2 separate regions of the Homo sapiens genome follow, and region 2 is linked to region 1. Evidence: fine-mapped expression QTL. A gene starts in region 1. The other region holds a variant in brackets. All regions are shown on one strand. Distances are from middle to middle.

Region 1 (16,499 bases):
ACACCCTGACATGTGCCTTCTGATAAGCAAGCTTGCTGTTTTCCAACATGTGATAAACGCTTCCCGCCTGTCTTGCTTTCATAATATCCTTAGCTGTATGTTCATAATCTCCATAATTATATCATTAACAATACATTACACATTTTTATGTCCTTTGAACTTTATAAAGATGGAGCCCATTGTACATAATTCCCAATTATTCCCTTTTTTTATTCAACATTAGCTTCTGAGTCTAGCAGACATCTGTGGTGGCCCACACCATGTCCCCTCAGCCCACCCAATTTTGGTGTAGCTGAGACTTGCAGGCAAGCTGCTAGCATGTCACCTCATAGGCCATGGCATTTTTCTGCTTGCCTGTCTTGGGGCTTTCTACAAAGCCTTGGAAGGCTGTGCAGCCCAGAAGTTCACCAAAGCTAACACCTCGGAGACATAAACAACAGTGAGAGGAGTCAAGACAAAATGCTCCAGGCTTGCACCTTCAGCTCTGAGCTGTATTCGACATGATTCCTCTGAGTGTTCCCAATGGGAGTGAGCACGGTGGTTCATAGTGGTAAGTAGCTCCGTACTGCACCTTTTATTGACTTTTCTTCCTTTTTTGCTCATTCCCATTTCTGCTTCCTGGGATTACCTCCTAAATACACTCTTGAACTGAAGTACTTGTCTCACACCTCACACTCTGTTCTGGGGGTGTACAAATTAAGACACTGAAATTAATCCAGGTTGTTTCACAGAGCACTAGGATATTCATTCACTGCTATATAGTAGACCATTATATAAATCTACCAACAGTTTCTCTCGTCCCTTAATGATAGAAATGTGGGTTGTTTCTGGGCTTTAGCTTTTATAAATAATACTGTCCTGAACATTCTTTTTTTTTTTTTGAGACAGAGTCTCGCTCCGTCGCCCAGGCTGGAGTGCAGTGGTACGATCTCGGCTCACTGCAAGCTCCGCCTCCTGGGCTCATGCCATTCTCCTGCCTCAGCCTCCGGAGTAGCTGGGACTACAGACGCCCGCCACCACGCCCAGCTATTTTTTTTTTTGTATTTTTAGTAGAGACGGGGTTTCACCGTGTTAGCCAGGATGGTCTTGATCTCCTGACCTTGTGATCCGCCCGCCTCGGCCTCCCAAAGTGCTGGGATTACAGGCGTGAGCCACCGCGCCCGGCCTCGTGCCCTGAACATTCTTGATAGGTATTTCCTGCTCACATGTGCAAGAATTTCTCTAGAGCACCAGTTCTTAATGTGTGGTCCACAAACACTTGAAGTCCCTGAGGCCCTATCATCCAGGTTAAAACTACATTCATCATAATAAAGACGTTATTTGCCTTTTTCACGGTATTGACATTTTCAAGGACACTGCAAAAGCAATAGTGGGTAAAACAGCTAGCACAAATCAGGAAGTGGCACCAAACTGTAGTAGAAGTTACAAATTTTATTAAATTTCAACTCTTAGATACACATCTTTTTAATAGTTTGTGTGACAAAATGGGAAGGATGCATAAACAGTTACGCTGCATATCAAAGTATGATGACTTTATCGAGGAAAAAACCTTAAGTGATTGAGTTGTGAGCTGAAGTAATCGCTTGACTCATGGAGCACCATTCTTACCTGAAAGTACAGCTGAAAGACAAAGTATAATTATTCAGACTTGGGTATTTGGCAGGCATTTTCTCCAAAATGAATAAAGTGCACCTGTCACTTCAGGAAAAGCAACTGACAGTGTTTGTTGTCAATGAGAACATTCAATCTTTTGAGCAAAAATTAGAATTTTGGAAAATTTTTATCTGCTGCTTGATACCCTCACAATAGCAAAAGACTTTTCTGATGAGATTGGCATTGATATTAATAAATGTGATTTTTTGATGTTGTATAATGAAATGTGTCAACATTTAGAAGATCTGTAAAACTCAGTGACTCAGCAATTTCCAAATGACCAATGGGTGTGTTGACAAAACCCTGCATGGGTAAAACATTCATTTAAAATGCAAGAAAAAACTGTGAGTGTTGCTGTAATAGAGTATAAAAAGGTCATTGCTATGGTTTCAGATTTCATGTCACAACTAAGCTTTAAAAAACTACCACTTGCTGAGTTTTGGTGTCTTATCAAAGAATATCCACGATTATCTGAAAAAGCTACTGAAATGCTCCTTTTCCAATTGCATACACTTCAACCACAAAACATACTGCAGCAGATTGAAAGATATAGCTGGCTTGAGAATACAGCTGTCTTCTATTAAGCCAGACATCTAAAATATTTATAGCCATTAAAAAGAATAAAATCCCATCATTCAAAGTGACATGGATGGAACTAGAAAACATTACGTTATATGAAATAAGTCAGGCACAGAAAGTTAAACACCACATGTTCTCACTCATAGTTAGATGTTAAAAAAAAAGAAAAAGTTAATCTCATAGAAGTGAAAAGCAGAACAGAGGTTACTAGAGGCTGGAGAGGGAAGGGGAGGATAGGGAGAGATTTGTTCAATAACACAAAATTACAGCTAGGTAGGAGGAACAACTTCTACTGTTTTATAGCACTGTAGGATGACCATAGTTAACAATAATATATTATGTAGTTTCAAATAAAGAAGAAAGGATACTGAATGTCCCCAAAACACAGAAATGATAAATGTTTGAGATGAATATGCCAATTACCCTGATCTGATCACTACACATTGTATGTATCAAAATATTACTCTGTACCCCATAAATATGTACCATATGTGTCAATTAAAAATTAATTAGGGCTGGGTGCAGTGGCTCACGCCTGTAATCCCAGCACTTTGGGAGGCTGAGCCAGGCGGGTCACCTGAGTTCAGGAGTTCAAGACCATCCTGGCCAACATTGCGAAATCCTGTCTCTACTAAAAATACAAAAATTACCCAGGCGTGGTGGCACACGCTTATAATCCCAGCTACTCAGGAGGCTGAGGCACAAGAATTGCTTGAAGCTGGGAGGTGGAGGTTGCAGTGAGCTGAGATCACACCACCACACTCCAGCCTGGGCGAGAGAGTGAGACTCCATCTTAAAAAAAAAAAAATTAATTTTTTAAAAAGGATTTATATAAATATAAAGCAGTGCTACTCAGTAATATTTTTGTTTCAAAAAAGTTGCTTTTCATAAATATATGTTTTGTTGTTATATAATTTATTATTTTTATTTTTAAAAGTAGTAATTATATTTAATTTTTCTTAGTTTTCTTTTTTTTTTTTTTTAGAGCTAGGGTCTAGCTCTGTTGCCCAGGCTGGAGTGCAAAGGCACAATCATAGCTCACTGCAGCCTTGAACTCCTAGGCTCAAGTGATCCTCTTGCCTCAGTCTCCCTAGTAGCTAGGACTACAGGTGCATGCCACCAAGCCCAGCTATTTTTAAAAATTTTTTTGTAGAGATGGGGTCTTACTACGTTGCCCAGGCTGGTCTCAAACTCCTGGCCTAAAGTGATCCTCGCACCTTGGCCTCCCAAAATGCTGGATTACAGGCATGAACCACCACACCCAGTCAGTTTTAATTTTTAATATGGAAAATTTCAAAAAATATAACTCATATAAACTGAAGCTCCCTGAGGTCCTCAATAATTTTTAAATGTAAAGCGTTTCTCAGAATATATACCTAGAAGTAGTATTGCCAGGTTATAGATGATACTAAATTGTTTTCCAAAGTAATTGTACCAATTTATAACTTGTCATAATTAATATTTTTACTGCTTTCTCCAGAAGCATTTTATCAGATAGTCTAAATCACATCATAAAATGAGTTTCTTATCTGAAATGTTCTTTTTAGACTTCTAACTCTATGAGTGAGAAAAACAGATACAGACATAGATAAAGATATCACTCATAATCGTAATCTCAGAATCCAGTAATAATCACTGTAATTTTTTTGGTCTATATGCTTCCTGACTTAAAAAGAGGGAGCTCTAGATTTCCAGTTAAATAAACATGTCTCATTGAACACAAATGCTTATCTCTGTTACCTCCCAAAATGATCTAAAATGACAATCTTGGAGTGCAAAAGGAAAAGCCTATAAGGACAAAGAGAACAGGACAGTAAGTAACTGTGCAATAGAGATGTCAATACATTTCTTTAATGAAGGAAAGCAGAGGGCTCACTAGTAATAGAGCTAGGAAAAACTGAACTCTAACCCAGGTGCCTGCAGAGGGAGGCAGGATTGGGGGAAACATCAGATAAAGGGTTCCTGACATCAACCCTTGACATCAGCAAGAAGAAAGCTGATTCTCAACTGAGAACCTTCCAGGCTTGGGATGGGAGGGACCAGGGCCTGGCTCTACCTCCCGGGGTTGTTGTAAGGATTAAATTAGCTAAAACATGCAAAATACTTAAAATAGGGGCTGATACTCAATGGTAGCTGTTATTGTCTGAGGATAAGCTCCAACTTGAAAGCCAGAGACCAAAATAAACAACAGAGACAATCTAGGAAGCAGAAGAAAACAGCAGAAAATTACAACTGGAATCCTCAGAAATATGAAATAAGAGAAGATCCTGAATCCACAACATAAGAGCAAGAGGCTACCAAAAAGGAAAGTCGGGGATCAAACAAAAACTCTTGGAAATTAACATTTTTGTAGCAGAAATGAAAAAATTCAATAGAAGAACCAGGGGATACAGCTCAGGAAAATCTCTTGTAAATTAGAATAAACAAAACCAGGAAATGGAACATGAAGAAAAATTTAAAAACAGGGAAACTGGCTGGGTGCAGCAGCTCATGCCTGTAATCTGAGTACTTTGGGAGGCTGAGGCAGGAGGATCACTTGAAGCCAGGAGTTCAAGACTAGCCTGGCCAACATAGGGAGACCCTGTCTCTATTTGTTAAAAAAAAAAAAAAAAAAAGAGAAACTGATCACAGAGAACGTTTCCCAGAATTGAAGACTTTGTTTCCCAATTGAAAGGGGCCACCGAGTGCTTAGCATAATGAATGAAAAATACTTAAAGGACAGTTTGTTATGAACGTTCAGAACATCAAGGATAAAGGAGAAAAATATCCTAAACAAATTAACAAATTAACAAACAAAATATATGGGAAGTAACACAAGTCAGAATAAATCAGTCTCCTCAAGAGTAGCCACATGAGAAGCTAGATGACAATGAATCAATGCCGTTAAACTTCTGAGGGAAAATAATTTCCAATGTGGAAATCTGTCACTCAAGGATGAAAGAAAATAAAGCCATTTTTAGACAAGCAAGGACTCAAAAATTTAGCTTCCATGAACCCCTTCTGGGGAGTTAGTGGAGAACATACTCCTCCAAAATGAGAGAATAAACCAAGAATGGAAAAACATAAGATCCAGAGAGCAGGGGATTTGGCACAGGAGAAACAAGAAGAGAATCCCCAGAATGTGGTTAGGTCCCTAATCCTAGGACAAGAGCTGTGAAGCAAGGCTAAGCAGAGGAGTTTGGAGCAAAGAGAGGATGAGTCTAAGGAGGGATGCTGCCAAGAAAAAAAAAAAAGACACTGGTAAATGACCTGGTTCACATCTGTAGTACCAGCCACTGAGGGGCTGAAGCGGGAGGATCACTTGAGCCCACCTCTGAAAATAAAAAATAAACAAGGGATGCATAGATCATTAAGCAAATAAAAATAGATAATTTTTTGACTCTAGAAAAAATATTATTCAATAAAGTGAATATAATCTTAGTGTAGTATATACCTCAACTGTAAAAATATTCTAGTTATATTACTATAAACTCTTGCTAGTCATTCAACAAACCAGGAAATTCTGCAGCCTGGCCAAGAGTCCACTGGTAGACACAAAAGAGACAGACAAAGCATAAACTCATGGAAAGAATAGAGAGGGGACTTTGACAGTGTTCAGCCTCAACATTCACTCCCTCCTGGCTCCAACCTTCACCTTCCCAATAAAGAATGTAGAATCCCAAACTGGTATCTCCAGTTCCGTTCTTTTCTGAAATCTTCTAATTGCTCACTGGACAATTCTTCTTGCCTATTGCCACTTGAAGCGTAATCTAGCTCTTTCTCTCTCTCGGTCCCTCTCTTGCGCGCGCGCACACACACACACACACACACACACACACACACACACGCTCCTAACTTATCCTCTTCCTCACCGTTTCCCAAACCAACTCATCACACCTTCTCCACTTTCAACAGTGGCTCAGTGGCACCACTACTTTTCCAGTCTTCCATGTGGCTTTTCCACTCCTCCATTCCCTATAGCTGGTTTGTTTTTAGCTGGCTTCTAAAGGTCCTGCCGTGTCTTCAGCTGTAATCTAGTTCATAGCTTATATGAACGTTATAAACCATACCATGTGACACAAATGTAAAATACCAGTACTACATCAAGATTTCTGAAATAGACTCTGACTTGGTTACTTTTATTAATAATAATCGAATCAGCATTTGTATAGGGTTTTTAAAAAGACATTTAATGTACTTTCCTCTGATTGCTAAAGTATAAACGTTTACTGTAGAAATTTTGGAAAAGCTGGGCGCAATTGCTCACATCTGTAATCCCAGCACTCTGGGAGACTGAGGCAGGAGGATCACTTGAGCCCAGGATTTCCAGATCACCCTGGGAAACACAGTGAGACTCCATCTCTACAAAAAAATTTTAAAAAATTAGCCAGGCATGATGGTGTGTGCCTGTAGTCCCAGATACTTTGGAGGCTGAGGTGGGAGGATTGCTTGAGCCCAGGTTACAGTGAGTTATGATCACACCACTGCACTCCAGCCTGGGTGACAGAGCAAGACCCCATCTATTTTTTAAAAATTAAATAAATAAAAAATAAACATTGTGCAGTAGATCTCTAGAACTTTTTCACCTTACAAACCTAAAATTCTATACCCTTTAAACAATTCCTCTTTTCCCTCTCTCCTAGCCACTGGCAGTCACCATTCTACTTTCTGTTTCTTAGACTTTGATTGCTTTAGATACTTCATATGAATGGAAACATGCAGTATTTGTCTTTTTGGGGCATTGTGCTCACTTTTAAGGCTTTTGATACCTAGTACTAAACTGACCTCCAGAAAGGCTGTTAACGATTTACAGTTTGACTGGAAGCGTGTGTCCATCTGGGCTGAGTTCATTGCTTGCTTAGCATCTATCAGTTGTTTCAATTCTTGCCAGTTTGATAGAGGAACAAATAGTGGACCCAAACAGGGTTTTACTTTGGATAAGGCCATTGTCCTATGAATCCTGGCTGAAATATTTGCTCCAGCACTTAGAAGCTGTGTGACCCGGGACAACTCACTTAACTTTTCAATGCTTCTGTTCCCTTATGTGTAAATGGGGATAATAATATACACGTATACATTATACACACTTATTATGAGGAATTAGTTAATAAATGTGAAGCTGTAAGAACAGTGCCTGGAATATAGTAAGCCCAAATGTAAGGTAGCTATTATCATTTTTGTCAATCCTTGCTAATGTAATACCTGGAAAATTACAGCCAGCTATTTTAATTTACATCTCCTCGGTAATCAGTTGAACGTGAATGTTCTCTGTATTTATACTGGCTATTGGTACTTCTGTCAAGATTTCCTTTTTCAAAGCACTGTGGCAAACGGGATCTCACTTGATCCTCCCAATAAACTCATGAATGAAGAAGGTGGCAATCATCAATCCCCACTTTTCGAATTAAGAAATTGAGCCTCGGAATTCGAATTCTGAGCAATTCCAATTCCAGGATTCGGATCTCACCCTCTAAAACCTAGTAGCTGTTGCAGAAAATATAACGGGAAAAAGCTTTGGTTAGCCGTAACCACCACCCACCCCGGTGTGGCTCCGCCCCTGCCCCGCCCCGGCACCGGCTTGCCCCGCCCCGCCCTCTACGCGGGTTTCCAGCCATCCTCTCTGCGCACGCGCGGCCGCTCCTGCGGGCGGAAGCCTCCTGGCGCTCGGCCCTGCGCCCCTCCCCCCGGCGCGCGGCCCCGCCCAGGACGAGGGGCGGTGGGCAGGCAGCGCTGGGTCCAGTGGTCGGGGGAAGGCGAGGATTACCCTCCCGGAGGCGTTGTCTGCGACTCGGCGGAGGCTCCAACTTCCAGTGGCCCGGTCGGGAAAGGTACAGACTCCCAAGCCTCTTGGTCGGCGGCTCCAGCGACCGCCATTTTCCTCCAGGAGAGGGAAGAGGGCAGGAGGCGGGGGCCGTCCCCTGGGGCCGGGCGGGCCGGGGCGGGGTCGGGGGGCCGGGCGGTGGGGGGCGGGCCCGGCTGGCTATGGGGCCCGGCCCCCTGGCCCCAGGAGCGGCTGCTGCGGCGGAGTTAGGCCGGCCGCAGTGGGAAAACCCTGGGCGCCCTCTGGGTCTCAGCGTCCCATTAGGACGGTTCCGCGCTGGGTGCCGCACGCCGCACAGTGGGCAACGCTTTCACAGGGGTCTTTGCATTTCACCCGCACACAGCAGCTCCTGGAGGGAGGCCAGGAAAACACTTAACCCATTTTGCAGACAGAAAACTAAGGCTCAAAGTGGGGAGGAGACTTGCCCAGGGACACCCAGCGAGGTTGTGGCCTTGGGACTCGGTTCCTACTCCCCCACATCCAGCGCCCTTGCCACCAGACCACTCTGCCTCACCTGGCAAAGGATGGGGCGGAGCTAAAGGATTAGAGGAGTAACTGGCAGGGTATTTTTTGTTTTGTTTTGTTTTGAAGATCTGCCTCTTTCTGTACCACCCAGATCAGAGCCTCCTAAGAAATATCCAGAAGTCAAGCCATGGATCCACCTGCACGTAAAGAAAAAACCAAAGTTAAAGAATCTGTCAGCAGAGTTGAGAAGGCCAAACAGAAATCAGCCCAGCAGGAGCTGAAGCAGAGACAAAGAGCAGAGGTGAGATTAAGGCGGAGGCTCTGTATGCCTGTAGTCTGCTGGAGATGATGCTGGAATAGAGAAACAGCAGAAAGGAGAACTGACAGCGAGCCATACTTGCCTCCAGGCAGGATGGGTGTTCTCCCAGGTTTAGAGGGGACAACACTGAGGTTCAGAATGGTGAGGTGGCAGCCCAGAATCACATGCCAAGTTAGTGTCAGAACCCCAGTCTGGTGCGGAGCTTTTGTGGTAAGAGACCCAAGGGAAGGAAGAAAGGAAAAAAAATGATATGTAAGGGGAAAGAAGGGGTCAGAATGAGAGAGAGCACGCAAGTGTCAGACACCCCCAGTACAGATGTTCTGGATTTGGTGCGGAAAGCAGCTACTCATGCCAGGTAGAGGCCCAAGCTTTAAACTCACCAGTGTGTTCCTTTGTTCTCTCAACGATTACAATCAACTTGAGAATAAAAAGCTTTAAACTTTACCCTGCCAATATTGAGCCACATACAGACATAAGTATTTTATTTTAGTATTTAATGTCAGGGAAAATCTTGCTGGTCTCTTTTTCCCTCTTTGTTTTGTTTATCTGTCTGCTTTGTTCATTTCCTGTCTTACATCCTTTTACTTCTCCATGGACAACTACTTTTTTTTATACTTTTACATTCAAATATATTAATAGATATCCTTGAACAATATACAGTAGTATTTTAAATTTTTACATTAATAAAATTCCTGCATTTTATTTTGCATTTTGCTTACATTGTTTTTTAGAACTATTCATGCCAATATAAGAATTTAGTTTATTCTCATTAATTTTTATAATAGTCTATTTTATGCATCCATTTTACTTAGTATATTTATTCATTCTTACAGAGATGCACATTTAAATTATTTATAGTATTTTTTGCTATTACAAACATTGCTGTAGTGAAAAGCTTTTAGGTGTCTCCTTTGGCACCTGCCTTAGAATTTCTGTAGGTTATTTAACTAGAAAAATTACTGGGTACATTCTCAATTTTACTAGACATTGCCACATTGCTTTTTTTTTTTGAGATGGAGTCTCTTTTTATTTTTTATTTTTTATTATTATACTTTAAGTTCTAGGGTACCTGTGCACAACATGCAGGTTTGTTACATATGTATACATGTGCCATGTTGGTGTGCTGCACCCATTAACTCGTCATTTACATTAGGTATATCTCCTAATGCTTTCCCTCCCCCCTCCCCCCACCCCACAACAGGCCCTGGTGTGTGATGTTCCCCTTCCTGTGTCCAAGTGTTCTCATTGTTCAGTTCCCACCTATGAGTGAGAACATGCGGTGTTTGGTTTTTTGTTCTTACGATAGTTTGCTGAGAATGATGGTTTCCAGCTTCATCCATGTCCCTACAAAGGACATGAACTCATCCCTTTTTATGGCTGCATAGTATTCCATGGTGTATATGTGCCACATTTTCTTAATCCAGTCTATCATTGATGGACACTTGGGTTGGTTCCAAGTCTTTGCTATTGTGAATAGTGCCATAATAAACATACGTGTGCATGTGTCTTTATAGCAGCATGGTTTATAATCCTTTGGGTATATACCCAGTAATGGGATGGCTGGGTCAAATGGTATTTCTAGTTCTAGATCCTTGAGGAATCACCACATTGTCTTCCATAATGGTTGAACTAGTTTACAGTCCCACCAACAGTGTAAAAGTGTTCCTATTTCTCCACATCCTCTCCAGCACCTGTTGTTTCCTGACTTTTTAATGATCGCCATTCTAACTGGTGTGAGATGGTATCTCATTGTGGTTTTGATTTGCATTTCTCTGATGGTGAGTCTCTTTTTTTTTTGAGACGGAGTCTTGCTCTGTCACCCAGGCTGGAGTGCAGTGGCGTGATCTCTGCTCACTGCAACCTCTGCCTCCCGGGTGCAAGCAATTCTCCTGCCTCGGCCTCCAGAGTAGCTGGGATTACAGGCGTGCACCACTGCCTTGGCCTCCCAAAGTGCTGGGATTATAGGTGTGAGCCACTGCACCCGGCCGATATTGTCAACTTTTAATTTTTGTTAACCTGATTCATTCATTAAATATTGGCCAGGCACAGTGGCTCACACCTGTAATCCCAGCACTTTGGGAGTCCGAGGCAGGCGGATCATGAGATCAAGAGATTGAGACCATCCTGGCCAACATGGTGAAACCCTGTCTCTACTAAAAAAAAAATTAGCTGGGCGTGGTGGTGCTCCCTGTAGTCCCAGCTACTCGGGAGGCTGAGGCAGGAGAATTGCTTGAACCCAGGAGACGGAGGTTGCCGAGATTGTGCCACTGCACTCTAGCCTGGGCGACAGAGCTAGACTCTGTCTCAAAAACAAAAAAAAAAGAAAAAGAACTGCTAGTATGTGCCAGGCACTGTTCGAGGAATTTGAGTCACATGATGACAAAGCAGAAAAGAATCCCTGCCTTCATGGATCTTGCATTCCAGCAAGGGGAGGCAGTAAACATAATAAGTAAACTTACTAGTGCATTTGAAGTTAATCTGTAAACTGAAATCTACCTTTGGGTTAAGGCAGACCCCCTGAGAGCTGTGGTCCTTTACCTTCCCATTCCCACCTGGATCCGGGTCCTCAGATGATATGACTGCATTGTGCTTTGGTGAACAATATGAGGGTTGCTATAAGAAACAGCCCTGAAGCAGGAGAACAGAAGCTACAGATAAGAAAACCATTGATCAGAGAAATGGTGATATAGCCAAGGGAGCTCTCACTGGAGGAACAGAGCTATCTATACTTCCGTGTACAACAAATGCTCTGGGAAATGGAGAACCAGTTGCCAGCCCATATGTGGTTACCTCACACCAATCAAAAGTGACTGTGGAGAGCACCCCCAATTTGGAAAACCAAATGAAAATGGAGTATCTCTGTTCAGAATGAAAATTTTGAAGAAATTATAAATTTACCCATTGGATCGAAACCATCCAGATTAGATGTCACTAACAGTAAGAGCCCAGAAGTTCCTTTGAATCCAGTTTTGGCCTTTGATGATGAAGGAACGCTTGGGCCCCTGGCTCAGGTAGATGGTGTTCAAACACAACAGACTGCAGAAGTTAAATGCGTATTTTTTCTGAAGAACCAACGTCAAAATTTAACGAGAATTTCTATAATTAATGGAATTCCTTTCATGCTATAAAAGAGCATCCCCTCTTCCAGTTTTCTAAAGATTTCTTGACCATCATTTTGAAAAGATTTATTTAAACTAGCTAAAGACAACAGACAGGATAGCTTTCCTAATAATTTTCATCAGTAGAAAAAAAATACTCCTCATTCTTCAGTACTTTCAAATGGCTTTTTCCAGTGTGCTCCTTCTTAGCAAATTAGTATTTTTCTGCGTTATTTAAAAGACAAGAGGATTTGGCTATAAAATGATTGACTAGGATTGACTAGGCATGATTTTTTTTCACATAGTTTGGTCTTAAAGCTTAACAGCTTAAAATTGGCAAAAAAAACTTGTGCCTTTTACCATGTAATACTTGAAAAGTAAGTACCTCTTTGCTACAAGTAGAATGAATAGGGAAAAGTTTAAGCCTGTTTTTTTAAAAATATTATTTTAAAGAGCTCTATTTGTAGAGGCAAATTATAGGCAGATTACCAGTTTCTTATAAATACAAACTTGTACATGGACATTCTGCAAACCCAGCTGTCATATTCTTGCAACTACTTTTGCAAAAGCATACTAAAAGGTTTTAAAATGTGAAAAAACATTATTTTTTCAGAGCAAGAAAATAATTTACTGTTGTCTTCAATAATGTGTAAAGTTTTTCCAGATAAACTAATCAAATAAATTAGAACAATGTGACAACATTGCAAATTTGTCATTAGATGCATTCCTTCTAACGTTACCAGGGGAGGATGTTACTGATGATTCAAGGCTGTTTCTGAAGTCTGTGTGTTGCTACTGTCCCCAGTGATGGTGGGACTTACCTCTGTCCTACTTGATCACAAATTATGTTAGGGGGAAATAAAGATTTAATATTTCATTAAATAAAAAAGAAATTTGGTTTTGCTCATTTAAGAGCAACAAGAAAATGGTGGTGTGTTGACTGTGTTTGGCCGCAGGGCACAGACCTTTATGGAAGTCCTCGCTCTGCATGGCATCCACCAGCTTTTCACCTTTCATTCTTATTCTTCACTTTTGCTGCTGAGCCTAGCTGTACAAATTTGCACTTTCATTTGCTAATGTAAATTCAATTTATTTTACCATTTTAGAGACTACTAATGATTAAATGTAAGAGAGGACACATGTTTTTATGTGGAGTGTTAAAAAAGATAAATTTATACCACTGTAATGTGCTGGATTTATTAAAAGAGATTGGTTAAACTGCTCGGTTGAATGAGAGACTTCCTCTATTGTACTCTTTTTTTTTTTTTTAAATCCAAGGATATTGTCTTTAGTAACAGCTTGTAACTTGTTAAAACATTAATTTGGGGTTTTTCCCTATTCTTAATTGTCTATGTACACATAGTAATTATGTTAAAATCCGTTTTTAAAAAAAACAGCCCTATGAAACTGTCCTCTGTGCATATTGTAAGGATAGATGTTGAGGACATTGTTCATGCCCTTATTGACACCCTTCTGTAAAGTTCTATAGGTTAAATTTATTTGTCTGACTTCAAATCTCAGCTCCTCCATAAATCCCAGTTCTTCCATGTGACGTTGGACAAGATACTTAACCTCTCTGAACCCCCAGTTCATCAGTTCCTCCTTGGTAAAATGAGGATAACATCTACCTCAGAAGACCATTAAAAGGAATAGAAATACCACGTGTAAAGCCCATAGCGCAGTACTTGGCAGAGGAAGCATTTGATAACTAGCAGTGATTATGATCAGGAATAATCTTGTGTTTCCAAGCAGGCAGCCTGCTCTTATTGTGTGGACCCTAAATTGAACAACTGCTGAGTTCCTGTTGACCTGCTGAAATGCAACGTTGCTGCACTCAAGCAGCAGCTGGCCCCGTGCAGCTCTTGAGATGTGCCAGGACCGAGCCAAGCCTACACATGCATAGCCACATGTAGTCCTCACACCAGGGCTCCAAAGCAGGAGTTATTGTGACTCCCATTTAACCTTGGTTAATCCGATATGTAAAATATATGGCCTTGTGAGGTAGGCAGTATTATCCTCACTTCAAAGGGATGTGAGTAGAGTCCTGTAGTTAAAGAGGGGCAGGCCTGTGGTCTAAACATCTTCTGACTTTTGTCTGTTGTTTTTTGCCTTGCCCCCTACAGCTGCCTTGCTGTTTTTTTTTCTGTTTGGTTGGTTGGTGTTTTTGTTTTGTTTTGAGACGGAGTCTCGCTCTGTCACCCAGGCTGGAGTGCAGTGGCACGATCTCGACTCAGTGCAACCTCCACCTCCCAGGTTCAAGCAATTCTCCTGTATCAGCCTCCTGAGTAGCTGGGATTACAGGCACCCGCCACCATGCCTGGCTAATTTTGTATTTTTAGTAGAGATGGACTTTCACCATGTTGGTCAGGCTGGTCTCGAACTCCTGACCTCAAGTGATCCGCACACCTCGGCCTCCCAAAGTGCTGGGATTACATATGTGAGCCGCCGCGCCTATCCTGTTTGTTTTTAATCTTTATTGCCTGGAATGTAATGCAACAAGACCCTTTGTGGGGAGGAAGAGACAGTTTCTATTCAATTCTGCAGACGCCAGATTCCAGAAAGTTAGATGTGAAGGAGAGATGTGGGAGGTGAATGGGAACGGAAGGCACATTGGCAGTGGAAGCACCGTTTGACACTGCTAGGGTCCGTTTCCTTCTTGACTGAGAGTCATTCTTTGGCCTGGACACCCTGACCCATTGTGAGTCTCCTCTTTCTCCTACCATCTTGCCTCCTTGATCTGGAGGTCTCTGAGAAGCTATTTAATTTGCATCTCAGTCCCTAGTACAGTAATGTGCAGATTAAAAATGCTCAGTAAATACTTAGTGAATGAAGCAAGCAGAGGTTTTCAAATATATATGTATATATGTGGGCCCGGGCACAGTGGCTCACACCTGTAATCCCAGCACTTTGGGAGGCCAAGGTGGGCAGATCACGAGGTCAGGAGATCAAGACCATCCTGGCCAACATGGTGAAATCCCGTCTCTACTAAAATACAAAAAATTAGCCAGGCACGGTGGTGCACGCCTGTAGTCCCAGCTACTCAGGAGGCTGAGGCAAGGGAATTGCTTGAACCAGGAGGCGGAGGTTGCAGTGAGCTGAGATCGGGTCACTGCACTCCAGCCTGGTGACAGAGCAAGACTCTGCTCACAAAAAAAATATATGTGTGTGTGTGTGTGTGTGTGTGTGTGTATGTATGTATGTGTGTGTGTGTGTGTGTGTTAAAAGTATATTTATATAATGTGTGTATGTGGCTTAAGAATAAAACACCCAACTATAGAACGTGACCAGTAACTGGGAAGCTTTGTGTACTCCTTTCCTGGTCATGTACCTCACCCTTCCCACCAGCAGTACCCTCTTTGCTGTATTTTATGCTAATCATTCTTGCTGTTCTACGTTAATTTACTGTCTGTGTACCTCTAAATATTTTGTTGTGTAACAATATATTGTTTTGAATGTTTCTGACCTTTTATATATGTTACCGTGACTGGCTGTCTTCACTCAGCCTTTTTTTAACCATTCAAGTTTATTTATTTTTATTATGGTAAAATATACATAAAATTTACTAGTTTCATCAGCCGCATTCTGTGTTTCAAGAATCATTTGCGGTAGTGTTAGTAACTATTTTCATCACTGTGTAGAATTCCATTTTTCTTAAAGATGACAGGAATATTCAAGCTTTCTAGTCAGTTTGGATCATTTTACTTTTCCTAGGAACTTGTTTCATTTAGGTTGTCAAATGTGTTGGCACGGAGTTCATAATGTTTCATTTTCATTTCTGTTATGTCAGTAGTTAAGTCTTCTTTCTAGTTCCTAATAATGTTTATTTGTGCCCACTCCCTTTTATGTTGATCTGTCATGTCAGAGGTTTGCAAGGTTTTTTTTAGTATTTTCAAGGAACCATCTGGCAGTCTTGGTGATCCTCTCTATTGTAGGTTTGGTTGCTTTTTCATTCGTTTCTGCTCTTTATTTTGTATTTTCTATTTGTCCCACTTCTAAGTTTCATTTTTTCCCCCTTCCTTGTCTTTTCAATTAATCAAGTTATAGCTCCTCTACACACACACACACTCTGTCTTTCATTTTTTTCTTCTACAAATTAGGAAGTTTTGTGATCTGTTTCTGTTCTTAGTGGGTGGATTAATTAAGAATAAAGAAAGATGATGAGGAATAAGGTGTAGTTACCCTGCCTTTCACCTGAGGATGTCTCTTGCCATCTTCTTTCCATCACCACTGCCTGCTGTAGACGATATTCCCACGACCTCCTGTCTGGACTGTTGTAACAGATGCCTCCTAAAGCACAGAAAGAATCAACGTTGCTTATGGCTGGGCACAGTGGCTCACGCCTGTAATCCCAGCACTTTGGGAGGCCGAGGCGGGAGGATCACATGAGGCCAGGAGTTGGAGACCAGTCTGGCCAACATGGTGAAACCTTGTCTCTACTAAAAATACAAAACTTAGCCGGGTTTGGTGGCGGGCACCTGTAATCTCAGCTACTTGGGAGGCTGATGCAGGAGAAATGCTTGAACTTGGGAGGCAGAGGTTGCAGTGAGCTGAGATCATGCCACTGCAATCCAGCCTGGACAACACA
Region 2 (16,499 bases), 29 kb before region 1:
TGTAACCTTGGGCAAGTCCCTTTCTTTATCAGCCTATTTCTACATACGGCAAATGCAAGTCACTCTTAGTTGCTGTGAGAATTCAATAATGAGTGTAAAGTTCCTGGCACATCTCTTACTGGTGAACGGCAGGGTCCCCATGTTAGGTAAGGTTATGGGTGATGTCAGTTCCAAGCCCGGTGCCAGAATCACACTCTGCCAACTGGCTACAAATGAAGAGGGCCCCTCACTCTGGAAGAGTAGGGCCCCAGATTCACAAGAGAGGTAGATAGGGGTCTTTTGTATTTGTTAGAGGAAGGGTTCTTTTGTATTTGTTAGAGGAAAACTGGGTGAACACTAAACTTCCATGTAGAAAACACTGAAATCTGCCATGTGGAGCCAGGCCTAAACCAGGAGGACAGGAAACCAGACATAATCCCTGCTAAGCTGTTCCAGCCTTGAGGACTAAACTATTGCTACTAAAAGCAAAGACTCTCATTATGGGTTTTAAGATTTCTCTCACCTTATCCCACCCTTCACCCTGTACTCCCCGTCACTGCCGTTTTTCCTTGGCACAGAGTAAGTGCTCAATCAATAACATTGAGGCCAGGTGTGGTGGTGTGCACCTGCAGTCCCAGCTACTCCATACACTGAGGTGGGAGGATTACTTGAGCCCAGGAGATCAAGGCTGCAGTGAGCTGTGATCACACCACTGCACTCCAGCCTGGGCGACAGAGCAAGATCCTGTCTCAAAATAAAATAAAGTTGACCTCAAAATAAAATAAAGTTGAAAACGTTCTCATGCTTGGCACTGACTTGCCATAGAGCAAATGGCCCAAGGCCATATGAAGAGGCCACACTGGCTCCTAACTCCAGGCAAGTCTCCTAAGTGGCTCCTCCTTCAGAAGCCAAAAGGTAAATGTAGTGAAAAGAGCAACAGCTGGCAGTCAGGGAGGCCCAAGTTTGAACTCTGCTCCACAACGTACTTGCTGTATGACTTCACAGCAAGTGACTTTATCTTCCCTCACTTTCATGTCCTCTTCTTATTCCTTTGAGAGTTGCTGTGAGAACTACATGAGATAATGAATGTAAATGTGACTGACAGAATTAATCGCATGTAGTGGATGCTCAATTAATGTTAGTTCCTTTCCTTTCCCCCTTCTCCTCAAAGGCCCCAGAAACTCAGTCTGCTTTCCTTTGCTTTTCAGAGCATCTACCCATCTGTCTTTCTTAGAATTCAAATCCCTTCCAGAGTGGGTTCAGTGGGACAATCTCCCCAGCTCCCCACTTCCCCAAATAAGTACACGGGTCCTTTTCATTGAAGGGTTTTACTGCTAATCACTCTGGGGAAAACAGAGGCAGGTTGGGGGAGGGATAACAAGTAACAAACATGGGGGAGTGTGAAGGTCCCTGGGTCATGGCTCCCTGAGGGTTTCCCTTTCATTTCTAAGGTGGGACCTCAGATCTCTTCTCCAGACCAAGGAGGCCCCTTCCATTGAGAAGGTCACTCCTCCCACCCCAGAGATCTAGAAGCAAAGTTGGGGCACAACAGGTGGGAACTAGCAGGAAACTGCAGTGCACTCCTACCTAAGCAGTTCACAGACAATTTGGAGAACCTTCAGACAGTGACACCCATCTCATAAGTACTTCCTCAAAGGCCAGGGGGACTGCTGCCTTAATAACATGAGCATGTTCTGAGCCTACCCTATTTCTCTTTCACCCCAAGAAAGTAAAGCCAAGACTGGGTCTTCTGACTTTCCAACACGAGAAATTGGCCTGGAAAGAGGCAAGGGTTTTTATTCCAGAGTCCCTCCTCAGGACTTCCTGAGATCCTGACTTCAGAGGCTATACAAAACCATTCTCCAAAGTGGGATGAAGGGCTTGAGGTCAAGGTAGCAGCAAAAGATGCTGAAGATCTTCCTCCAATAGGTTAGGGTCTCTCACTCTCTCTCCCTCACTCTAAATGGGGCTCTCCTTCAGCTGGAATCTTTCCCAGCCTGTTCGCCCAAGTGAGTTTTCTGGTGGCGGATGAGATTCGAGCTCCGGGAGAAGTGTTTCCCACACACAGTGCACCGGTAGGGCTTCTCCCCTCTGTGGGTCCGCTGGTGTGCTCCAAAGTTGGAGATATCGCTGAAGGTCCGCCCACACTCAGTGCACTCATAAGGTCTCTCACCTGTGTGGGTGCGGTGATGCACGCCAAAGCTGGAGCTGTTGCTGAAGCTCTTCCCACACTCACAGCAGATGTAGGGTGCTGGCTCCAGGTGGGTCCGGTGATGCACAGCTAGCGTGGCACTCTGGCTGAAGCTCTTGCCACAGATGTCACAGCGGTATGGCCGCTTGCCTAGGTGATCTTGCTGGTGCGTGGTGAGGTCTGAGCGCCGCCGAAAGCTCTCCTGGCACTTGGGGCATTTGTAGTGTTTCTCTTCCAGGTGGATCCGCTCGTGCCGGATGCGGTTGGAGCTTCTCGAGAAGCTCTTGCCACATTCAGAACACTTGTAAGGCTTCTCACCAGTGTGGATCCGCTGGTGTGTTCTCAGGTTGGAGGTATTATTGAAGGTTTTGCCACACTGGGCACATATAAAGGGCTTCTCATCTGCCTCATGCCTTGGATGAGCAATGGGGTCCCCTAGCTCTCGAGCCCGGACAGTGACTTTCTGCCATGGCTTTTTTGGATGAGTTTCTTGCAGTTCATCCGACAGGCTCTCTTGCCCATGCTCCTTCTCCCCAGGTGGGATCCAAGAACCCTCTGAGTCATCCACTCTCCAAGGCTTACCCCCTTCCCCTTCCTCAGGCAGGTGTGGTTCTGGACTCTGCTCCTTCTCACTGCCCATCTCTGAACCCTGAGAATGAACACAAATGGCCAACACCTTTATTCTTTGGGTTGGGCCAGATCACAGGGAATCTTTTGTTCAGTTTGAAGGGTATACACCTTCCCCATGGGACCATCCATTAGAAATAACCTCAATCAACTGGAATACTTGGATAGAATACCTTTACTTGCTACCTTTTAAGTGACAAACTTTCAGAGATATTTAAAGCTACCCACCAGAGCAAAAAGAAGGCACCGGCTTTGTCCACCACCACCAGATGATATTTGTGCCATTTGAATAATGTCACTCTTCTTGAAACCACTAAGCAATGACAATCCAGACTATAATTCATGGGCAAGTAAAAGAGCTTTCATTTTGGGATAAGTTCAATTTTTCTGCCTAACTGTAAGTTAACTGTAACTCTTTTTATGTTTAATCCTTTTTGAAAAACCTTCCTTACAAGTATCTACCTATATGCCTGCTTTCAAAATGAACAAAACAAAACCTCTAAATCTTGAGGCTTTCCTAGGTGACAAGGCCCAGCTTTGGCTTTTCTTGAGATTTCTGCCACTCTACCCCTCTCCAGCCCACACCAGAATCTAGCAAGTAAACATCTGGGTTAATACCTGGGACCTCCAGGACCTACTGTGGGGCCTGGGCTGTGTTTCTTCTGATCAGTCAGTGCCCTCCACTACATTCTCAAACACCATACAAAGCCCCACCCACACCCCCCGCCCACACACGCATGCATGCACACAAGCAAGCAGAATCACACAGACACAGTCACACCATACACAAAGCCATATTCTCACGTAACACGGTCATACTCACATACCTGACATACTCGGTCACATTCTCATACCACACACAACAGCTATACACCTACACACCACACACAGCCATACATTATCACACCACACACATACATACTACATACACACTCATACCACATATAGCCACATACCACAGCCACACACATATATAGCTACATACATGTCTATACACATATACCCATACACCACACACAGACACACACTCACATACCAAGTACACACAAAGATAAACACAGACACAGACACACAAACCACACTCCCCACACCCCACCCCAAAACTAAACACATAAGAGTGCCCAGTACAGGTCCTGATTTGTGCAAACATCACTAATGTGTGCTAAGCTGCACAGACTCCTTTGGGTTCCTACAGCCAAGGACAGGGAAAGAGTTGGGGGGAAAAGTACCTCTGATGAGAGTGGTAGCATTTCCTCCGGGCCTTGAAGAAATAACGACATTTCAGCAGAGTGGGTTGGTGAACAGAGTGACATGAACAAAGGGATGAGGGAGGGAAGCACAAACTATCATAGGACACTGATGATAGAAAATGAAAGACTGATAATTCCTTCAAGTCTGCAAGTATTTCTGGAAAAAAGAAACACAGAATAAAGAAAGGGGTACTGACTACATTTAGGGTTGGATTACAACTGTGACACATACTATCTTTATCGCTCTCTGCAAATTATTCAACCACTCTGAGCCTAAACTCCCTCTTCACTAAAATTGTGATACCTACCCACACTACAAGACTTTGTATTAGAAAAAAATGCCTGTAATACTCAGCAGAGTGTGTGACACATGCTGTCATTCAGCAAATGGCAGCTGCTGTTACAACTGTTGAAGACACTACGTCCAGGCCCTGTGAAGAATACAAGAAAAAGATCTTTTAAATGATCTCATTAAGAAAAAACTTTTAACTTAAAAATAGCATAAAACTGTATATAACCTTCTAAAATGTGAAATACAGACAGAACCTCAACTCTTTAAGAACCAGAGGTTGACAAGCTTTTTCTGTAAAGGGCCAGATAATATTTAGTAAATATTTATGGCCATGGGATATCTGCTGTAACTATTCAATTCTGCCACTGTATCATGAATCATGAAAGCAGCCATAGACAAGACATAAAGGAATGTGTGGCTGTGCTCTAATAAAACTTTATTTAAAGCAACAGGAGGTGAGCTGTGGTTTGCCAATCCCTGTTAGTGTTCCTTGAAGAATTTAGATAAGAATATGAAAAATAATTGGTTTGCTTTACTTCCAAAAATGCAAGTAAACATGAGAAACTATTCCTTGATACTTAGACACTGTTTCCTGACCATCCTTTAAAAAATTAAAATCACTCCCACACTCCCAGTCCTCCTGCCCCATAGCACATCTTACCTTCTGACATTCTCTTTATGTCTATTATTTATTGTCTGCTTCCCTAAAACATAAGTTCCATGAGAGCTGGTGTCTTTGTTGTTTTTTTGTTTTTTTTTTAATTTACCAATGTAACCAAAACTCCTAGAGTAGTGGCAGCCATATACAGTAGATCCTTCATAAGTATTTGTTGAATGAGTTGAATAAAACACCAGCTCTGTCTTCATGGGACACAAGTAACCATGAACTGTCTCACCCACTTTTCCTCAGCAATCTCCTGATTCCTGCCTACTTTCTCCTTTATGCAGTCACAGAATCTTGTGCTTGGCTTATAGTGGTTTGCAACTACTAGTAGAACATGTCTGTTTCTATTAGTAGTTTATAAGCAACTTGAGGAAAGGGACTGGGTCATATTAGTAATCTCCTTCTGCAGCATAAAGCTGGGTGCTCAAATGTCTTTTGAATGTATAAGTGACAGGATGTGATCTTAATTCACGCCACCATCCCATCCCCCACCCCCTGCCCTGCTCCCATCTGACCTACAGCTACAGTATCTCTACGCAATGAGCTATTCAGCCTCCACTCACTTCCGAAACTGCTATTCTGAGAACCTATAATTTACCAAGTTCCAGCTCTACCCGGGGCTGGATGCTAGGTCAATGTAAGAGCAAAAGGATTTAGGATTATGATTACCACTCAGTTTGTGATACAGTGTACTGAAACAGACCGTGAACTCCAGAAATTGTCATACAATGCAGAAGGTTAAGTTCAGGGGACAGGGGCAGGAACTGTGCCTTAGTCACCTTTGTACCCACTCCTCAGTGTCTAACACAGCACCTGGCACATTATTAACATTTTTTTAAAGCTCGAATCAAGTGCTAAGCTGTGGACTAAGGACCATATATGAATCATCTAATTTCACTTCACATCATCCTTATTTTAGAGATGAGAAAGCTGAGGCTCAGAGAAATTAAGTATCTTGCCCAAGGGCACACAGCAAGTAAGTGGCAGAACTGGGGCCTATGCCCATCACTTCAAAGTCAGTGCTTTTAACCATTATACTATTACTGAAGGAAAAAAGGAGAGAAGACGGGAAGGAAGGAAATAAAAACAGTACCACTGAAGTTCACATGATACAGATGTATCTCCCTGATGAAATCAGGGCTGAGAAGTTTCAAGGAGGAGTAGGTATTTGACCTAAGGTTTGCAGGATGGGTAAGACTGGGACTTGCAGAGATAAAGAGGCAACTACCTACTGAGAAGACAGTGCAGCTGAAGTACAGAGGCACTTTCATATCACACTGCAGAGATCTGGGGGGAAAAGGGGTCTATTGGGCTTTGTCTTCCTGGTGGCTCAGCTGCACAGAGAGAAGCAACGGTGGAAGGGGCTGAGAAGTGGAGGAGGGGCCAGGTCTAAGAAGTTAAGAGCCAAGAAGATGGGGCTAGTGATCACAGATGATGAAGGTGAAGCGCCTAGGTTAAAGGCAAGGGGCCAAGCCATAGTGCGGTATGGAGGTCCGAAGTTACAGGTCTTTGGGGCCAAGTCAAGGGCTGCAGGGAGGAAGAGGAGAGAGGAGCTATGAAAGACCAAGAGCAAGGTGCTAACAGGGTAATTGTACAGGGAAGCTAGATAACGGGTCAGAGATACAGGAGGACCAAGGAAGTCAGAGGGTCGCAGGAGACGGTCAGGGAAGAGGAAGCAAAGGCTGCCAGAAGTGTCACAGGCCAGGGCCCAAGAGCTGAGTTGTGTGTTGCGGGGCGGGGAGAAGCCAATGGCGGAGGTCCAAGGGTACAAGAGCTGGTTTCAGAGATTGCCGGCGGGCTTGGGGCCAGAGAGGTGGGAGAGGAGGAGGGGCTGATCCTAAACGTATGGTCAGCGGCAGGAAGGCTGTATACTCAAACCCAACAGAAGGGCCGGGGAATGGGTTGGGGACAGCCACCTGGCTGCGTGGGCCGGGGGCCAGGGCGAGGGTCGCGGCGGAGGGACCACAAGGCCCCTTGGCTTCCCACTCGGTCCAGGGAGCAAAGCAGCAGCATCCAGATCCTCGGTGAGAGGGAAGTGGCCGTGTACAGAGTTTCCCGCGAAGTCGTGTCCGCCTCCCCCCGCGACCTCGGGCCCAACCCGGACCCACCTCGCTCCCGCCGCTCGATCAGGGACAGCGCCGCCTCTGTAGGCGAGGGAAGGAGCTGGAGCCGGAGCCGGAACCCAGGAAGGATCCGCCCTACTACTCCAGGATTGGTTTCTTGGGATAATTCTTTATTTCCATTGGCTACCATGACTGCCACAACGCAAGCGACCTGGCAGGACCACCAATAAGCTTTGACCGCTGGCGTGGCATGCTGGGAGTTGTAGTCCTAAGGAAGCGCGTAGACTCAGAGAAAACTTGCGAAGTTTAGGATGGAGCTGAAGAGACTGGGTTCCGTCCTACGGTGGGATTTCTTTCCGTGCTCGCGCGTTCAGCCCCAAGTCTCAGGGCCACTCGTCTGGGAAGTTGTAGAATCTGTATAGCCAACCTACACAACCTCCAAGGGGGCAAGTACTCAAATTTCCTTCTTTACTTTGAGTTGGTAATCCTTGACCGTCCTGTAGACGTCCAACGAAGCCTAGAGTCTGGCACCTCACTCAAGGTTTATAACTTAAAATCAAAGGAGGGTAGAGCTGGAAGGGAGTTTAAAGATAAAATAACCCAATCTCCTTATCGGAGAAGCTAAAAGTACCCTGTTCAAGGATCAACCTCCAGGTCTTCCAGCCCCCCTGAGCAGGGATTTTCCCGGGTTCCGCGTGCATCCCTAATTAAGCCTGACACGTGTTCGTCAATCCAGACACAACAAGATCACCAAAGTATCCAGGACTAGGTCTTTTTTTTCAGGTTTTATTTTTTAAAATAATAAAAGGC[T/C]AATGAAATACGTAAACTACAGGCTTCTCGTATCTGCACAATGTTTCAGTGCAAAGAACAAGGAGCATTGCCTTCAGAGCTAGATAAACCAAGTATAAAACTCTGGCTCTACCACCTAGCCATTTGGAGTACCAACTCCCTCCCCCATAAAATCCCTGGCAGAATTACTGTGAGGATATTATATATACATACATATATTCTCATGCATGTGTATGTGTATACATATATACATATATATGTATGTATGTTTTATATAGTTGTAAGGTTATAATACATACATATATTGAGGTTATTTCTTGATGACATTAATATTCAAATCAGTAGACTGATATGTATGTACATATATACATGTATAATACACATACATGTGTATATACATATACTAATGTATACATGTGTATATACATGCATACATGTGTGAATATGTATTATACATACATATGTATATATGTGTATACATATACACGTGCATACATGCTAAATACATATACATATATATACACCTATGTAGTACAGATATGTATATACACATACATGTATACATGTGTATATGTGTATGTATGCATATGTGTGTGTATATTATATGTATATTCATGTATGTATGTGTATATGTATGCATGTATTCTGCCTCCACAAGCTGACAATGTGAGTTAGTTTTAAGATTGGGATATTCAGGAATGCATGTTTGGAACTGAATATGGTTGAGTGAAATATGTGTGCCTTATGAACACTATTTGTTTATAAATTGATAAAATAAAATACTAGAGAGCAGACTCAGGAATAAAACTATGGCTTTAGTATGAACGGTGGCTAAACCTTGCCTTGGGGGACTCAAAGCTCTTTGGAAACCAATCTCTTACCTTCCCCACAACTCCTCATTCACAATGAAAATAACAGCATACCAAAACACAAATACCAAACTTTTATTTTAAAACTGTACAAAAGCAAACAAAAAATTCCACTGAGTCACTGTGATAGTTAATCTTATGTATCCACTTAACTGGGTCACAAGATGCCCAGCTATTTGGTCAAACATTATTCTGAGTGTTCCTGTGAGGGTGTTTCTCAATGACATTAACATTCAAATCAGTAGACTGAGTAATGCAGACTGTCCTCCCAAATGTGGGCGGGCCTTGCTGAATCAGTTGAAGGCCTGAATAGAACAAAAGAGCTAACTCTGCCCTAAGAGAATTCTTCCTGCCTAATAGCCTTTGGACAGGACCATCAGCTTTTTCCTTGCCTTCGGACTTGAATTAAACATCATCTCTTCCTTGGCGTCAAGCCTGCTGCCATCAGACTGGAACTAAACCATCAGCTCTCATGGGACTCCATCTTGCTGACTTATCCTGCAGATCTTGGGATTTAACCGCCTCCATAATCACGTGAGCCAATTCCTTATAATAACCACCGCCCCCCTGCCCCAATATATATTGATTCTGTTTCTCTGGAAAACCTTGACTAATACAGGAACTAACGGAGAACTTCTGACAAACAGAAAGATACAGTTTCTGTTGGATAGAACTGTGTATTCATCTGCAAACTGATAACCAATATCTCCATGGTTAGGCCAGATCGCATATATGATGTGACTTGAAAGCGACGAGGCTTCTGCAATACACACCCAAAAATCAAGGTCATTATTTCATCCTCACACCTAGTCTACCAACTTCCTATTTGAAATCAATACTCTCCAACCTAAGAGGCTGTTTGCTACACAAATACTCAAGTATTGCAGTACAATGGTCTTGTGGGGAAAAAAAAGCTTCTACGTTGGTGGTTAAAACTGCCACTTTTTCTAGCTGGACCTCTCTGAATCTCAGAAAGGGTTGGCACAACAGATTGATTCATAAGACAGTCACAACAGACTCAACAGACTGAGCCTCTGAAGGTCTGGGCCAAGGTCAGAGGGCAACATACAGCTGAGTTCTCTGCAACTGTGTTTCCCAGCTCCCTGATGTGCTCCTGGGGCTTTTCAGGATTATAGCAACTGTATTTAAAGTCGCTGTACCTAGTTACCATCAACAGGCAGATTAGCTTTTGAAAGCATGTACATTAGCTCTGGATATCACCAAACTATGTTGTAAACAGCATCAAGAAAATAGAAAAGGATGGTATGTTTTACTCATCAGCCTTTCCCAATTCATTCCTGAAGAAAGAGGGAAAGAGTGAGTGGTCTAAAACATGCTTGCTTTTAGAGAGCTGACTTTGGGGGGCAGAGGCCAGAACTGAGAGAGAGAAAGGCAGTCCTCAATGGGATAAGTAAGAAGTCAGGGACTGGGGGCCATAACTTCTTGACTAAAGCTTGAGGGCAGGATGAGGCAGAGAAAGTGTCTTCTAAATAACCCCTGGAGTAGCGAACTCTTTTCCCTGAACCTGTGCTGTATCTTGGTAACACATATTCAACATCTCCACCTGCACCTAAACTGATTGTTTGGTTTCCAGGAATCCTCCCTCCAGGTCACTGGGAGCTTCAATTCCTTAGAAGAAAGGTAAGCTTCAGAACTGAGGCCTGGGAGAAAAGTGGTACAAATAGAAACCACAAAAGGGTCTGGATTTGGGTTAAGGTGAAGAGACGTTCCATAATCATGGGGTTGGGCCAGGCGACTGAAGTCCAGGGTGCTGGGCTGGATGGTGATGGGAGCAGGTAATGTGGCATATCCCTAAAAAGAAGGAGCCTTGAGCTCCTGAAGGGCTGGGCCAAGGTCAGGGGGCAAGGACAGGATTATATCCTTCAGCTCTGGGGCCTTCGGGGGTAGTAAAGAAGAGTTCACCTTGAGGGACACATCTCCATTAGCATGGCCTTTCCCTTCTGGCCTGGGGACAATTGATTCCTCTGATTTGTGTAGTTCTGAACAAATGACTAGAGGTGCTGTGTTTTTTCCTCCATCATGAAGGCAAGGTTCAAAGAAAGGGCGAAGGGGGCCAGAGAAATTGTGGGTGAAAGTAAAGATGTGGGACTTGTTGGTCACATTGTAGAAAGAGATGACTCCTGCTTCATAGTCCAGGAAAATCCCCACACACCGTGGAGGCTCTTTAAGGCGGAAGGAGGTCTGCGGGGATGTGAGAGCTTCATACTCATTCCCACGACTCTGTCGCAGAAGCCAGTGTCCATTGGCAGGTGAGGCAGTAACCTTCCCCTTCCTGCTCACTGACTCACTACATACTCCAAGAATCCATTTGGTCTTGTCTCCCACATACACCTCCCAGTAGTGGCAGCCAGTCGTGAAGTACTCAGAGCCTAGGATGCTGACAACGAAATCAAATCTCTGGGGGTTGTCAGGTACAGGCTGCCGTCTGTCTCCAAGCCTTACACATCTTTGGTCCTCAGAAAGGATGAGTTTGGGATGTGCTGTGTCTGGGTCCAGGGTCACTGCCACTGCAAAGAGACACAGACAGGTGAGGCTTGGAAGTATAGGTCTTAAGGGATTTGGGGATGGCTTTGGAGGGAAAAAGAATCTTAGGTCTGCCATCACTGTCATTAGCCCATTTTAGTTCATGGATTCCCGCCCCCACCATGTGTACTGGAACCAAAGAATATTCTCTTTCAAAGAATAGGTCTCCTGGTCGATTACTAAGTAATAGAAGAAAAAGTTCTTCTTCATCTGTCTGTGAAACTGCTTTAATCCTCAGGAAATAACTACCTGTTATGATTTAAGTGTGTCCCTCAAAAGTTCACGTGTTGGAACCTTAATCCCTCATTGCTGCAGTGTTCAGAGGTAGGGCTTAGTGGGAAGTGTTTGGGTCCTTCACAAAGAGATGAATGCAGTTTTCACAACACTGGGTTTATTTCTCTGGAGAGCAGGTTATGATAAAGCAGGTCAGGGCACTTTGTCTCCTCTCTGCTTTTGGAGGCACTCACTTGCCCTTCTGTTCTTCCAGAAGCAACTATCACCATACTATGAAGTAGCACAAGCCCTTCACCAGATACAGTCGCCCAATCTTGGACCATCCAGCCCCAAGAACCATGAGCTAAATAAACCTTTTTCCTTGATAAATTACCCAGTCTCGGGTATTCTGTTATAGCAACAGAAAACAGAGTAAGACACCACATTTGTCTTTGATGTTCCAAAATAATCAAATGTGTGATGATAAATACAGGGTTTGTTGTTAGATCCTGTAGCCACATAGCATGTTTGAATCCCAGCTCTGCCACATGCTAGTTATGTGACCTTGGGCTTGTTACTCATCTCTGAACCTTAGTTTCCTCATCTGTAAAATGGAAATAGTAACAGAACCTGTGTTGTAGAGCTATTGTGCAGACTTGATGAACTAATGATATAGTGCCTCATTCCTACAGTGAGTGCATGATATTCATTCTGTCACCTAAAATTATTACTTATAATTATCTGCTTTATTTTATTTTATTTGAGGAAGGGTCTCACTATGTTTCCCAGGATGGAATGCAGTAGGTATTCATGGGCATGCAGTCATAACACACTACAGCCTTGAATTCCTGGCCTCAGGTGAACCTCCCACTGCAGCCTCCCAAGTACGTAGGACGAAATTATTATTTTTAAATGTTAATATAGAGAGAAGGATTCTTCCCTAAAATTGTGGATTATGAGTGTCACAGTGAGTCTCCTTCCTTCCCCAAATACAGGAAACAGCTTCTTCTTAGAGAGTTAAGTCTATAAACCATACACAGTTGAGATGGTGGCAATAAGCCAGACTGTAAATGTGAGACAGAAGGGTTTGTAAGTTCCCAGAATGCCAGCCAAGGTGACCTGGAGTTCTCTCGAGTGGCCAACTCATAATTTGTTGTACTCTGCCTGAAGGAAGATGGTGTGAACAGGAGGAGGATAAAAGCCTAGAAAATTGATAAGGATCCCAAAGCAGTGAAAAAAACAGGTCCCATTTGAACAGCAGCAAAAAATGCAAACTATTTAGGAATACATTGAAAGAGAGGTGCAAATCTTTTCATAATGTATATTGTTGGGGCATCTGCTCAACCCATTCCCTTCTTCTCTGAGAATCTCAATCACCACCCCTAAGCAAATTGGTCTGCAGAGAAAGAAGAAAAAGCAAATGTGTAGAAAGAGGCGGAAGCAGTGGCTATTTATCTGGTTGTGGGATAGGAAGGACTTCCCAAACCTGAAAGCATGGAAGAGACTACACAGAAAAAGATGAATGAATTTGACTACGTAAAAATAAAACACTTATGCATCAGAAAAATACTATAAGGAAGTACAAATGAAAAGTAATGGTGACAAATATGACAAAGAGCTAATATACTTTATCTAGAAAGAGTCTTCACAAATCAAAAAAAAGCCCAAATAGAACAGGAACAGACAAGTCACACAAAGAAGAAATACAAATAACTGATAAACATAGGAAAAATCTCAAAAACCACAGAAAACCCTTAAGAAGACCAAACCTAATATTATCAGTGCTCTAAAAGAGGGGATACTTTCTAAATCTAAATATGACCTCAAGATCGATCACAAAGATTTTTTTAATTTGATAGTCAGATATACAGATTTGATTTAAAAATTTTTAAATTACCTGCATTCCAGAGGAATGGAACAAAATCTAAGGTTACAAAGCCATAAGGAGGAAGTGCTCTGAGATATGGACCTATTTGATTGGTATAACTTACCAAAATGCAACCGGGCTCTTCTCCAGCCTGAAAAATGAGAAAAGGGGATCATTAAAGTACCAGAGACATCAAGAACTCCTGTAGGGTGGTGGTCAAATGTGGAGAAAGTGCATCTCACCTGAGTTTGCTGCAGCTCTTTTCAACTCTATGAAAGAAGAAACAAGGGGAATGAGCTATCACTGCAAATATTAGGGCAACAGGAGATAAGTTGGTACGGAAGTTACAAGAACATGGGAAACTTACTCAGTTCACTCCGGAGTTTCTCTAAAGAATGAAAACAATTTGGCAAATCAGAAGGAGGGCCTCTATGTAGAGGCCCTCCCATAATGCTACAGTCCCATCCCAACCATGAGCAGACAGATACTCAATAGCTATACCCTGGAACTTCCCCAGAAGAGTTTGCAAGAGCAGTAGATCCCAGCTGTGGACCATGGGAGTATCCCCAGAGATACTGCAGAGGATCAGCAAATTCCTATGTGAGCCAAACCTTATCTGCAGGCTAAATAAATAACACATCTCACACCTACAGGTAATGACAACATAAATTATGTAGATGTTGTAGGAAATATTACTTCATTTAAAACTATCACTGAGTATTGGACTTTGTGATCATGTATATTTTCTCAATGTAATAATTAATGCATAGATATGTCACATGTCTACAGATTTATTTTTATTTTTATTTTGAGATGGAGTTTCGCTCTTTTTGCCCAGGCTGGAGTACAATAGTGCAATCTCGGCTCACTGCAACCTCCGCCTCCCAGGTTCAAGCGATTCTCCTGCCCCAGCCTCCCAAGTAACTGGGATTACAGGCGTGCACCACCACACCCAGCTAATTTTGTATTTTTAATAGAGACGGGGTTTCACCATGTTGTCAGGCTGGTCACAAACTCCTGTCCTCAAGTGATCCACCTGCCTTGGCCTCCCAAAGTGCTGGGATTATAGGCATGAGCCACTGCACCTGGCCAGATTTTTTTTTAATGTTAAAAAGAGGTCCTCACACATGAAATGATGGAGAAGTACTGCTCCAGCATATTCAGTTTAATAAGGATCCTGTCCTCCTGGACCCCATCTAAGGAAATGTCATGCCTGGGTGATAAAAGGGACTTCCAGATGGCTTCACCTATGGGAGATGCATCTATCTCTTCCTGGTGAAACGTTTTTCATTTAAAGACTAAATAATAGTTGTGCAGGAAAGAGGAGCAGAGAATACTTGAGAAAAGAGGCCTTTGAGAGCCAAGAAAGCCCCAGTCCCCATGGCTTGAATTACCAGTACCCCCTCCCTTCTGCCCCAGGAAGTGAAACTGAGATGCTCATCCCAAAGCAAAAGTGTCAGCAGAAGGAGCTTGTGCCATGGATGAGGAGCAAAACTTACTGACAGCTTTATGGAGTTTTCCTAAAAACCAGAAAGAGAGAGAAGAGTGAGTGATCAGATCCTGCCTCTTTTTCCTCAGAGCTGTGGCAGCCTCATCACTCCAACCCACAAGATTAAAATGATGGTGACGCTTCTATGTCCCTAGTCCAGCTCCGTGTCCCAGAGTTCAGACCCAGAAATCTGATGGTGCTGGTGACACTGTCCCAGTGACCCAGCCTGCCCGGGACTTTGGTTCCTCCTTCCCCTTCCCCTCCTTTTCATCTGTCTGGTTTCATTTCTGCTGTCGGCATGAGTGTTTCTATATGTTTGTAACTGCGGTACATGAGTGTATGCACTGCTGTCCTTTTATAGCCCACCGTTTATGGTATCTAAGGTGTAAAACTAGCTAAAGGCCTAGCATGAACTTGTTAATATGGCTGTATTATTCTCTACAGTAACTCCCCTGAGGTTATAAATTTCACAAATTGGAGGTCCCAGAAGATTTGGGGACATGTGTATGAGACATGTGTTTCTGGGGAGTACTTGCAGCTTCTCTGGAGGGCCATGTGGCCCACATTTCCCCCTACCCAGCATTGGCCCTGCTAGACAATTGAAGTTACACATCCTGAGTCCACCACCAGTCCCTGTGCTAAGGGCCGGGCATGTGTTAGGCATTAGGCATTGGAGCAATGCAGCCGAATACGACACGGCTCCTAAGGAGCTTATGGTTTATTGTTACCATCTCCACTACTAACAGCTTCCATTTACTGTCTGCTGTGCTTATACTGAAGTAGGCACTGAATCCTCTCAATAATGTGAGATGCCTAGAATTATTATTGCCATTTTATAGGGGGGTGGTCTGAGGCTCAAAGGGACACAAAATTTGCCCAAGGTCTTCCAGCTAGTAAGTGACCAAGGAGGCAGGATTCAATCTAAGTCTGTCTGACTCCTGAGTTAGAGGCCCTCTCCCTTACCCCACACTGTTCCCTCTTCACTTGAGCAGAACAGCCAGTGTCTGCCAGATACACGCCACGCTTGCACCAGCTTGGAGGAAATGTAAGGAGGGAAGAGAGGAGACGCTGACATCATTGAATCTGGAGTCATCTGAGCCAGTGACTTGTCTTCCCAGATAGACTTCAACAAGGTGTCCAACTCAGTGGCCCACAGTAAATGTCAAATTAATGAAGACAAAATGGCAATAAGGAAAAGGAGTTCCAGGCACTGTGACAGATTTTTTTTTAAGGTTGCCTGTTTTAACACTGAAAACAATCAGGTAAGGGGAAGTTATCTGCATTTTGCTGATGAGGAAACCAAAACCTAAGTGGCAGACCAATGATCTGAGGTGTCACTGACCCCAGAGCCTGCGACCCTTCCTTTGTATCATACCACCTCTCTCTATGCAAAGGTTGTGTGGATTCTTGAAATTCCCATATATCCCATATGACCACATTAATATACTTTTCAATAATATGTAGACTTCTTTTTAAAATGGTTGGCGGAAAGGCTAATGAAGGGAGTTTATGGTAATCTAGGCCTGTGAATTTTGACCTGGGCACCTCCTTACCCACTGCCACAAGCTCCACAGCCCCTTAACATTGCACACTAAATTCCAGTAATATCAATGGAGGATATATGTGTGCATGTGTGTACAGTATTATAAAAATAGACTTATA

Direction of the effects. Positions count from the first base shown, and alleles are read on the strand shown. Sizes are in standard deviations (SD) of each study's normalised expression.
For the expression in pituitary of the gene that starts at base 8,107 in region 1, C is the low allele of the variant in region 2 and T is the other (moderate effect, 0.64 SD a copy in GTEx).

Evidence for each region.
Region 2: its variant is fine-mapped to the expression of ERMAP in pituitary (GTEx, PIP 0.95).

What each region holds. Positions count from the first base shown.
Region 1 is chr1:42,808,730-42,825,228 of GRCh38, reverse strand. It overlaps ERMAP (erythroblast membrane associated protein (Scianna blood group)), which reads right to left and starts at 8,107. Exons shown (of 12, transcript NM_001017922.2): 1 at 7,976-8,107. It overlaps SVBP (small vasohibin binding protein), which reads left to right and starts at 7,832. Exons shown (of 3, transcript NM_199342.4): 1 at 7,832-8,039; 2 at 8,649-8,798. The coding sequence starts at 8,685. RefSeq lists silencers at 7,689-7,978, 8,129-8,328, 8,889-8,958.
Region 2 is chr1:42,837,270-42,853,768 of GRCh38, reverse strand. ERMAP (erythroblast membrane associated protein (Scianna blood group)) reads right to left here. Exons shown (of 12, transcript NM_001017922.2): 8 at 14,848-14,868; 9 at 13,716-13,736; 10 at 13,591-13,617; 11 at 13,473-13,499; 12 at 8,778-11,252. The coding sequence ends at 10,537. It overlaps ZNF691 (zinc finger protein 691), which reads right to left and starts at 7,156. Exons shown (of 4, transcript NM_001242739.2): 1 at 7,112-7,156; 2 at 4,356-4,478; 3 at 4,027-4,204; 4 at 1,292-2,819. The coding sequence starts at 4,110. The coding sequence ends at 1,956. It overlaps ZNF691-DT (ZNF691 divergent transcript), which reads left to right and starts at 7,355. Exons shown (of 5, transcript NR_186083.1): 1 at 7,355-7,512; 2 at 9,085-9,258; 3 at 10,319-10,365; 4 at 10,853-10,994; 5 at 11,756-11,874. LOC124904163 (a long non-coding RNA gene) reads left to right here and starts at 16,110. Exons shown (of 2, transcript XR_007066035.1): 1 at 16,110-16,499. RefSeq lists enhancers at 7,120-7,189, 7,350-7,619. The variant T/C (reference allele first, on the strand shown) is at 7,877.